Linked DNA regions of Homo sapiens. The protein of the gene in region 3 purifies or fractionates together with the protein of the main gene of each other region. This does not show direct contact. Each region holds a gene or a part of one and is shown on either strand. Other genes may lie near its edges.

Region 1 (3,655 bases), on a different chromosome or scaffold from region 3:
GTGGATGGATCACTTGAGGTCAGGAGTTTGAGACCAGACTGGCCAACATGGCAAAACCCTGTCTTTATTAAAAATGTAAAAAAATTAGCCGGGCATGGTGGTGGGTGCCTGTAACCCCAGCTGCTCGGGAGGCTGAGGCAAGAGAATCGCTTGAACCTGGGAGGTGGAGGTTGCAGTGAACCGAGACCGAGCCACTGCACTCCAGCCTGGGAGACAGAGCAAGACTCTGTCTCAAGAAAAAAAAAAAAATTGCTCTTTAGTTGGTGGAAGTGCTGCTGGCTTGTGTTTAGGAGTCACATTGAAAAATACATAGCTTTAAAAGGCCATATCCCCATACGTGCAACAGCATAGATGAACCTTGACTTTGTGCTAAGTGAAATAAGCTAAACACAAAGGACAAATATTGTATGATTCCACTTAATGGTGTACCTGGAGTAGTGAAATTCATAGAATGGGGAGGTATTTGATGGGTACGGAATTTCAGTTTGAGAGGATAAACAAGTTCTGGAGAACAGTTAGTGGTGATGGCTCCACAACGGTGTGAATGTACCTAGCCACTAAGCTATACCCTCACAAATGGTCAAAATGGTAAATTTTATATTACATGTATTTTGCCAGCCTAGGTGACCAGTGAGACTCTGTCTTGAAACAAACAAACAAACATTGTAAATGATGGTAACTTTATGGTGATAAGTAGATTATGTGTAGATTTCCAGGGAGAACAGTCATTTGGATGTATAAATTTTTTTAAAAAATCAAGCTCCTCTTAAAAGGAGCTAATTTTTGCTTGTTAGATATAAGGGAATGACCTACTTCCTCATTTTGTAGTCAATGAAGGAGAATGTGAGGTCCCAAAGAAATGAAGGAAATTATCTAAGTTTACATGCTGAGGCAGGCCCGAACCTGGCACCAGAACCTCACCCCGCTGACTAACCAGAAAAGGTGCTTGTATGCCTTTCCCCCATACAAATGTTTACCAGGTGACAGCATTCTGGTACCACCTTCATAATTTTTGCCATCCGCAAGTATCATTATTACTGTCACTTACATTTTATTTATTTATTTATTTATTTTGAAATGGAGTCTCCCTCTGTCGCCCAGGCTGGAGTGCAGTGGCACAATCTTGGCTCACTGCAAGCTCCGCCTCCTGGGTTCACACCATTCTCCTGCCTCAGCCTCCTGAGTAGCTGGGAATACAGGCGCCCACCACCACACCAGGCTAATTTTTTGTATTTTTTAGTAGAGATGGGGTTTCACCGTGTTAGGCAGGATGGTCTCGATCTCCTGACCTCATGATCCGCCCGCCTCGGCCTCCCAAATTGCTGGGATTACAGGCGTGAGTCACCGTGCCCAGCCTTGTCACTTACATTTTCTTTATGTCAACTTATTTCATGTAAAATACATTTATTTAAAACAATGTTATTTAAAAATGAAACTTGCTATCATATTTTAGATGGAAAACCTGTAGTATAAACTATCAGAAAATACAATTAAGACAATACTGTTTTAGTTAGATGTTTGTTTTGAAGCTGAAGCCTGTTCTATTTTTGTTCAAAGGGGAGATTAGTAATTTTTAGGTATTAAAGATACACTCAACCAAAGGGACAGAATGGGAAAGGCTGAAAGGGGAATGAATAACGTTCTCATCGTTCAAGTCATTGCCGGTGCCACACCCAGAGAAAAACAAGCACCACACCAGACAGCCTCTCAGCAAGCCGAGTAGGTGGAATTTTTATTTTGCAGAAAAGTAGTGTACGAGTTAACATAGAAGTGGTTCACTGTGGGAGTGGTGAGGGGTTTCAGAGAGTCACTATTGGTAAACATTCTTTTTTTTTTTTTTTTTTTGAGACAGAGTCTTGCTCTATTGCCCAGGCTGGAGTGCAATGGCGCAATCTCGGCTCATTGCCACTTCCACCTCCTGGGTTCAAGCATTTCTCTACCTCTGCCTCCCAAGTAGCTGAGATTACAGGTGCCTGCCACCACGCCCGGCTAATTTTTGTATCGTTAGTAGAGATGGGGTTTCACCAGGTTGGCCAGGGTGGTCTTGAACTCCTGACCTTGTGATCCACCTGCCTTGGCCTCCCAAAGTGCTGGGATTACAGGCATGAGCCACCAGGCCCTGCCATAGGAAGCTTATTCGAAGCAGAGGGAATGGCCTTTACAAATGTGTGGAAACAGTAATAAGCATTTGAAACTTATCTATCTTTTCTAGAAGAAAAGAAGAAATTGATCAGGGATTTTGATGAAAAGCAACAGGAAGCAAATGAAACGGTGAGAACAAGGAACAAATTTTGTTTCTTCTACCTGGTGTTGGTCTTTTCCAGAAGTAATGCTATGAGCTGATCACAAATTAACTGTTCCTGTCCATTGATCTTGATTTTGACTATTTCTTACTAAATGAAGCCAGTTGATGGGGATGGTTGTTGAGGGGGTTTGGCAAACAAATGGGTGAAGCCTGAAGATGCTCCTGAAATGTGACTCTTTGGTAATATATTGCTGATGTGAGTAGTAAGGGCATTCTCATACTTTTACCCAAGCAGTCTTTTAAAATCTGTTGTTTTTTTTTTTGTTGTTGTTGTTGTTGTTTGTTTTGAGACAGAGTCTCGCTCTGTTGCCCAAGCTGGAGTGCAGTGGCACAGTCTCGGCTCACTGCAAGCTCCACCTCCCGGGTTCACACCATTCTCCTGCCTCAGCCTCCCAAGTAGCTGGGAATACAGGTGGGCGCCACCACACCTGGCTGTTTTTTTGTATTTTCAGTAGAGATGGGGTTTCACCGTGTTAGCCAGGATGGTCTCGATCTCCTGACCTCATGATCTGCCCGCCTCGGCCTCCCAAAGTACAGGGATTACAAGGCATGAGCCACCGTGCCTGGCCTAAAATCTGTTTTTAAGAGCTGGCCATTAAGATAGGTTACTGGTCAGTGCGGTGGCTCACGCTTGCAATCCCAACACTTTGAGATGCCAAGGTGGGAGGATCACTTGAGGCCAGAAGTTCAAGACCAGCCTGGGCGACATAGGGAGACCCCCCATCTCTACCAAACAAAAAAAAATTACCGAGGTTTGGTGGTGCATGCCTCTGGACCCAGCTACTCAGGAGGCTGAGGTGGGAGATCACTTCAGCCTGGGAGGTCAAGCATGTGGTTAGCCACAGTTGCACCACTGCACTCCAGTCTGGGTGACAGAGTGAGACCTGCCTCAAAAAAAAAAAAAAAAAAAAAAGGTTACTGTTCTTTGTTAAACCTACTGTCACAGAAAATGTAGTTTAGAGGTAATTCTAACCATGTCCCTTTCTGTCTTAAGAGACAACATAGGAGCTGGAGTTGGTACCTCAGGCAAGACATGCATGAGTCTCAGTTGGTACCCAAAGTTTGTCAGAAGTTGGTTCCGTTTACTGAACAGTTTAACAACTGCTTCTCTTCACCTGTGGCTTTTCTTTAAAAAAAAAAAACTTTTTTTTTTTTTTTTTTTTTGCTCTAGCCCTATAGAAGCAAGAGTCCTTTGACTCCATCTCATCATACTCTAGCTTCAGCAAACTCATTAAGATTGGGGCCAAAATTCTGGTCGCTGCTAGTACTCCGCAGAAATAGTTGGCCCTGTATTTGCTACCCGAGAGCAGATGGAGAAAAAATTCTCTTTTGGCCAGCGAACTTCCTTCT
Region 2 (3,655 bases), on a different chromosome or scaffold from region 3:
GTGGCTGCACTGTGATTTTGTACAAGTGTAAGATGATGCTTTCTTTTCTGTTTCCAGGGCTTTCTAAATCTTTTACGACCAGTTTACTTTTGGGCATGACTCTGGCATCCTTTGATACTTTCTCTGGAATTCTCTTAAACTAAGAACTTACTTTTTTACGTGGCTTTTCTCATTAGTTGTAGATAAGCGAATCTCAGAAAAGAGAACGATTTCTTTTCCCTGTTCAGGAGGGCAAGAGAAATTTCTACATTAGCTATCTGCACAAACTGGCCCCTTAACCTAGATCATAGTGCCGAGCTCATTTTTGGACAGAGTACAGAGCATTGTGTTTTCGTAGCAGAGATAAAGGACAGTTGAAAGACTGGGATTCTCGGTCCAGCTCTGTCACAGTCCTCCTGTGAGCCCTAGGCAGATTATTTAACTTCTTAGTTCTGTTTCTCTATCTGATAAATGAGCTTCAGAATACCTGTTTTACTTGCCCACTGGGGTTGTCGTGAGAATAAAATAGGACAATAGACATGAAAAGACTGTGGCAAGTTAAAATGGTTATAGAAATATGTGTTATGTTATTACACTTCTACAGGTTTGTTGATGGGGCTCTTGTGGGTTACCGGATGATTATGTTCAAGGCTTGATACTCTGCTGCTGTCTTGCTGGCTGTCTGTCTCTACATAACTTGTAGCAGCAGTTCTAGTATAGCCTCTAGTTCTTCCCTTTTTCGACTTCTGATACCTGTATTCGCTGTTATCTGGCTATCACCATGACTATGGGCTTGTTTCTGAGTTATTTGAATAGGATGCATTTGTTTCAGCAGTGGTTCTCAAATTTGGCTATCCATTGGAATCAATGCCTGGGTCTCATCCCCAGAGATTCTGATCTAATTGGAATAGGGTGCAGCTTGGCCATTGGGATTTTTTAAAACTCCGTAGGTGAATCCAGTGTGTGGCAGAATTTCAGAACCACAATTAGACATGGTCCTGAGCAAAACAGTATAGCATTGTGCTGTAGGAGGCCAGGAATCAGTGACAGACACCTCTTGGCTCACTGGGAACTTCTGTGACTCTGCCCTCTTCCCAGGGGCATAATACCTACCTCCTGGCAGCTTCCTGCCCCACTGAATTTCACTCTTTCTCTGAAAGCTATTTTTTTGAAACAGGGTCTCATCACTCTGTCGCCTAGGCTGGAGTGCAGTGGCACTATCACAGCTCACTGCAGCCTGGACCTCCTGGGCTCAAATGATCCTCCACCAAAGCCTCTCAAAATGCTTTGATTACTGGCGTGAACTACTGTGCCTGGCCTTTCTCTGAAATCTTTTTTTTTTTTTTTGAGATGGAGTCTCGCTCTGTCGCCCAGGCTGGAGTGTAGTGGCATGATCTCAGCTCACTGCAAGCTCTGCCTCCTGGGTTCACGCCATTCTCCTGCCTCAGCCTCCTGAGTAGCTAGGACTCCAGGCGCCCACCACCACACCGGCTAATTTTTTGTATTTTTTAGTAGAGACGGGGTTTCACCGTGTTAGCCAGGATGGTCTCGATCTCCTGACCTTGTGATCTGCCCACCTCAGCCTCCCAAAGTGCTGGGATTACAGGCGTGAGCCACCGCGCTGGGCCGTTTCTCTGAAATCGTAATGAAACAGCAGAGAGATAAGAATCCAGAGTGACAAGACAGAGACTGGCTCAATAGAGTAGGAGATTTCAGGCCCCTTGCTCAATGCAGGAGTACCCAATCCCCTTTCATTTTGACTGTGTACTTCTAATATGAACACTGTTGGAAAATATCCCAGAAATAAAGAATGAAAACTGAAAATGATCTAGCAATAGTTGCCCAGAACAGTCTATTTGGAGAGCCTTTGGCTGAACCCAGCTGGTCTGTCTGTTCTTCCTTCACTTCTTTCTTCACAGTAGACTTTTAACCAGAAGCTTCCCTAAATCAACTACCCACTCTGGTTTTTTCTTGAAACCGTTCAACTATTTAAAACACTTAACCATCCACTTGCATCCATCTTCAAGTGCATTTAAGCTTCTTGGCCATGGACGGGAGGGTTTGGGGACTGTAACTTGCTCTTCTTGTGAGAATTCTGGCTTACCCCTCAGCTTGGCAGAGGGCCAGGTCTAGCTAATTAGAGTTGTTTGTAGTATCTGCTAATTATTCCTGGAAACGTTTGCATAACAGCTTAGCTTTTCTTTTTCTACTGTAATAAATTAGGCTTTGACCTTTCTTTAAATCCAGCTTTTCAGAGTCTTTCTGTCTGAGGGGTGATCTTGAGTTGTAAATGAGTATGAATTCAGCCATCTGTACTCTAAAAGCCGAGCTACTTTGCTGGGTGGGTGTAGGATCACAGGAGTGGAGTTTGGTACACTCTTGTCTTTTCCAACTTTGGAGTTCTGTCCTGTTTCTGTTGGGAAATGTTGAAGATAATCGGGAGGTTTATTCATTTTCATATTAAATCTCTAAACAGTTGAATGGTTCAATCCGTTTAATTTTATGACATGAACACATAGCAAGTCTTAGATTTAAGTTTTAACCCTTAGTCTAGTGTTACCTGCATTTGTGTTTTCCAAGTCTGTTGATTGCTGATGTGGGCTTGAGGGGTTTTGCATTTCATGCTCCTCATTGATTCTAATGTCTTTCTCACTTTAGCCATGTTTCCTGAGAGACTGGGAGTTGCAGGTGCACTTCAAAATCCATGGACAAGGAAAGAAGAATCTGCATGGGGATGGCTTGGCAATCTGGTACACAAAGGATCGGATGCAGCCAGGTATTGGGAGCCTGTGTTACTCTTGTGTGGGTGTGACAGCCTGATTTTTCATGTGCCCTCTTTTTGAAAAGGTTCCTTCCCCACAGTGCCAGCTGTTTTCCCTCTCCCTTAATGTATGTGGATGAACACTGGCCCTTCTAGTCTCTAGAACGGGTCTGAGTCCTCATAAGCAGCTGAATTTGACTCATCCTGAGGCAGTTGCTTGCTTGTTACTTCTTTCTGAGTTTCCTTGTGAAACTACCTGGCCTGTTGGCTGGATGAAAGCACTGGCTCTCCTGAACGCTGACGATTGGGTGAGCTGATTTCTTCTGAACATTTACAGTGAATGATCTCAGCACTGCTGAGTCAAGAGAAGAGTTATCTATTTTCCTTGTGTTAGAGCTATTATTGCTCCATGTAGATGGCAGGCTCAACCTGATTTGACCTGATCTCTTTTGCAACAAGAAGGAGAACTAGGGAATTCAGTTCTCTCTTGGGGGCATAGTCTTTACCAATTGTTTGTAAAGCAGAATTCTGTAGGGGCACCTTAGCAACCAGTTTGGATCAGGAAGCTGCCTGAGTGCTAAATAAGGTTGCAGTGGCCTTCTCTCTTTCCCTTGCCTCCAACAACAAACAATTACAGATATTTACTGGGCACTTGTTACAGGCCATGCACTTTGCTGGGTACTTTTAAACATGTGTTTTCTCATCTTGAGAGAGGCTTGGGAGTCATTTGAATTTTACTTTTTCCTCCATCATAGTGATATATTATTCCTTTATCAACTCTTAGCTTTATTTCATTGTTCATCATCTGTTCTCTCTCTCTAGGGCCTGTGTTTGGAAACATGGACAAATTTGTGGGGCTGGGAGTATTTGTAGACACCTACCCCAATGAGGAGAAGCAGCAAGAGGTAATGGCAA
Region 3 (3,655 bases):
AGTATCTAATAGGCAACCCAAATTTTGAAAGTCTAAAACTCAGCTACTTTTCTACTCCCAACCCCACCCACACCCAGCAAGAATCTTGTTTCTCTCCAGTCCTCCCCCAGCTCAGAGCATTTCCTTCCTTCATTCTAGTTTCTCACACCAAAAACTTAGAAGTTATCCTGGAATTCTGTCTTTCTCTCACATCACAGCCACACTGGAAGCTTCTACTATTAATTCTGTCATTGAAATACATTCAGAATCTGATTGCATCTCACCACACACACTGTTACCACCCTGATAGAAATCATGATCATCTTTCTCTTGGATGATTTCAGTTGGCTTCATACTCATCTCCCTGTTCCCAGCCTGGCACCCTTTCAAACTTCAACACAGTAAAGGAAGTCAAATCACTTCATCTTTCTGCTCAAATCTTCCAATGACTTACTATGTTAGTCACAGTAAAAGCCTAATTAGATGTACTTAACCTTTAGGTAGTATAATACATTGATATAATTCTCATCTCTTAAATATATCAAAGAGAGAAAAATCTCTGAAAAGCTAAAATAGTTTTTAAAATTAAGGAAAACACAGCTCTAAAATTTAATTACAGCTTGATAAAAAATCAGATGCAATTTATACCATATTTCTAGATAGATCACCTCTGTAATCACATCCTAAAGGCTATGCTTGCCTCTTCAGAGCAGTTTTCATATGATTGGAAGAATAAAATTTTGGAAATCCCTAATATATTTGTTTGCATTTTTTTATGATTCAATCTTTCATTTAGCAAACATTTTATATCTCCTAGGACATAGAAAAGGGAAGACTTATAGATTCTATCCATTGAAGTTACTAGCAGTTCAAATACTTTTTTATTTCATGTACAGGGATGACTAAGATAAATCCAACCTATTCCAACTAGAGCTTGATATGATCACTAACTTGACTATTCCAGATTCTTCCTGTGGTATCACAAATTAGAATAAATGGGCCTATCAGTCTTAATTTAGCCACAACTACCTTAGTCAACTTGCAGAACTTGTTATTTGTCTGAAAACTTACAGAGTCATCTTTTCTATAATGCTGTCCCATACAATATGTGCTGAAATTATTTCTTCCATTCCTGAACATCCATAACATAGGGTTTATTTGCACTCTGGGTAACATAAATACACATTATTTTAATTCATTCCTAATTTTTTTTCCAGTGCTAACTCTTATTTGGATTATAAACTTCCCAAGGGCATTTTCTTTCTTGGCATGCATGCATATTATAGCAAGATGAAGTTTCTATTTCTGCGCAAAAAATTGTAGCCAGGAGATATTTAGAATGTTGAAATTGACATATTCTTTTTGTCAAAACAACAAATCAGTAAAAACAGCTTTTCTTAAGTTATTTGGAAATGATCACAAACTTTTTCTTTTTTTTTTTTTTTAATTACTTTTAGCAAGCTCTATTGCCAAGATTGGCTCAGATCCTTTAAAACTGGTACGTGATGCTATGGAGGAAACCACGGACTGGATCTATGGCTTCTTTTCTTTGTTATCTGACATCATCTCATCTGAAGATGAAGAAGATGATGATGGTGACGAAGATACTGATAAAGGTACAAAGAACATAGAGATATATCTAACTGCTAGGAGCAACATTAAATATGTATTATAGTGGCTTGCCTCAGTTTAAATTCAAATGAGCACTTGGGTCAAGCTAAACCAAAATGAATACACTTCTGACTGCTAAAAGCATATCAACAGGCTGCCAAACACAGTAAATTGTTCTTTATTTAATTTTCATCTTATAGCTTATCTACCATTATGGCAAAGATGTCAAAATTAAATGTTAATATTAATGTAGCATTACAGCAAAGGGAGTCTCATTATGCTCTGCTATAAAACCACAATACAAACTCACATTTATATGCTTCTTTGGAAAAAATAGTTATTTTTCAAGTTTATCTCTAGGAAGATTAAAATAAAAACAGTAAAACTAAAAATACATATAAGTGTTTTATACACATATGTCATATTTATAGTCAAATAGCAGAAAGCAATCTTACTAAAAGTACAATCAAAAGAGTAAATTTATTGGACCAAATGGTGGTGTAGAATAGAAGGACACATTCTAAATGTCCTAACAATTATGCAACTAACCTATGTGCTCTCTCATATATATTAATGAATAAAAGGAAATAGCCATCTCAAACCACATAAAAGCTGCCATTGAATGAGTATGAAAAGAACAAAGCACTGTGATTCCATCTATTAGATAACACTTTTTAGGGTCAGTCTTAGTCATCAGAAATCATGTATTCAGCCTTGACTACCAGGAAAGCTTTTATTATTAGAGTATTTTTATAACTTTTCCTGAAATTATATTTGTTTTGGCCCCAGTAAGAGTTCAACATGAACAATAGAGAGTTGAAATTAATATGATATATAACCTATAATGTATAATTTGGATCACTGCCACAATTTTATTGAATTCATAAAAATGAAACAATCTTATATAAATGTATATAAACAAACTTTATACTTAAAAACTGGAATTTGGGAAGCAAAGTAATGTAAAGACTATGATTGTTAAAACTAATAGATTTTTTTAAATAAACAAAAGGGGAAAATAATGATGTCATATTATTCTATGCTAAAATATTTTCTAACTTTGTTTTTCTTTTAATCTTGGTCTAGGAGAAATAGATGAGCCTCCCTTGAGAAAAAAAGGTTAGTTGTTTTCACCTTTGATAATAATTATTTTTCTCTTATGGTAATATTGGTTTTCAGCATGGTTCAAATATATTTTACTTATTTTAATATAAAGGTTTTGTTTAATAATTAGGTCAAGATTTATAGTCAGAAAAAAAATACTCAATTTCTTTTCCAATGAAGGTGATCTCACTACTTTTCTGTTGATTATTTTTTAAATGCCTTATTCAGTAGATTTGTATGGATTCATTTATACACAGACCAATATGAGCTGGAATTTGAGGAATGAGGGGAGAATTCTGTAGCCTTAGAAATGGCCCAGAAAATGACACCCATGATTTATTCTCACCATGGTCAGATTTATTGATTTTAAATGTTTATTCTTATTCTTTTCCTTTTATTTTTTTTGCCATCATTATTTTGCATGTTAGGTGATGACTATGGGCCAGGACAACAAGACGGTGAGGGACATAACAGCCTAGGAGGCAAAGGCATATCCAGTTGGTATGTGTGATGTGTCACTGTCATGGAGTGGAGTTACCTGGATGTGCCTGGATGTGCTGTAGAGGAATTACTTGCAGGAATAGATAAGGTGACTGAGTGAAGTGGTCACAACCTGAATGATAAGAACGATAAACCTAGGACAAAGGAGGACAGCAATGGGGCAGGAATTTCAGAAGACAGAGATTTTGACAGGAAGGGGTAGGAACTGCATCTGGAAGGGGCACTGGGGAGCAGGTAGTACCATCTTGAGGTACATTTGTTGTGAGAAAACAGCCAACATTCAAGCCAGACTTAAAACAATTGCAGTGTTTTAGTTACTGCTACACATGGGCAGGCTGTTGAGGGTTTACCCAGGAAGATAACCCTGGCTTCTGTTGCTCTCTCCTAATACCTACTGTGGATTCAAACAATGGGATCCAAACTTACAGTTTCAGCCTTCCCTGAGAAAATGATGACTACC

What was found.
Region 1: the proteins of TRDN (region 3) and VTI1B purify together in Homo sapiens (co-immunoprecipitation; 3 studies listed by BioGRID and IntAct, with this or other methods). This does not show direct contact.
Region 2: the proteins of TRDN (region 3) and LMAN2L purify together in Homo sapiens (co-immunoprecipitation; 3 studies listed by BioGRID and IntAct, with this or other methods). This does not show direct contact.

What each region holds. Positions count from the first base shown.
Region 1 is NC_000014.9:67,661,093-67,664,747, reverse strand, and holds part of VTI1B (vesicle transport through interaction with t-SNAREs homolog 1B), read left to right. Parts: intron 1-2,212; coding exon 2,213-2,271; intron 2,272-3,655. UniProt on the Homo sapiens protein: V-SNARE that mediates vesicle transport pathways through interactions with t-SNAREs on the target membrane. These interactions are proposed to mediate aspects of the specificity of vesicle trafficking and to promote fusion of the lipid bilayers.
Region 2 is NC_000002.12:96,733,509-96,737,163, reverse strand, and holds part of LMAN2L (VIP36-like protein isoform 2 precursor), read left to right. Parts: exon of another isoform or gene 1-27; intron 28-2,637; coding exon 2,638-2,755; intron 2,756-3,562; coding exon 3,563-3,645; intron 3,646-3,655. UniProt on the Homo sapiens protein: May be involved in the regulation of export from the endoplasmic reticulum of a subset of glycoproteins. May function as a regulator of ERGIC-53.
Region 3 is NC_000006.12:123,546,394-123,550,048, reverse strand, and holds part of TRDN (triadin), read left to right. Parts: intron 1-1,436; coding exon 1,437-1,595; intron 1,596-2,676; coding exon 2,677-2,709; intron 2,710-3,655. UniProt on the Homo sapiens protein: Contributes to the regulation of lumenal Ca2+ release via the sarcoplasmic reticulum calcium release channels RYR1 and RYR2, a key step in triggering skeletal and heart muscle contraction.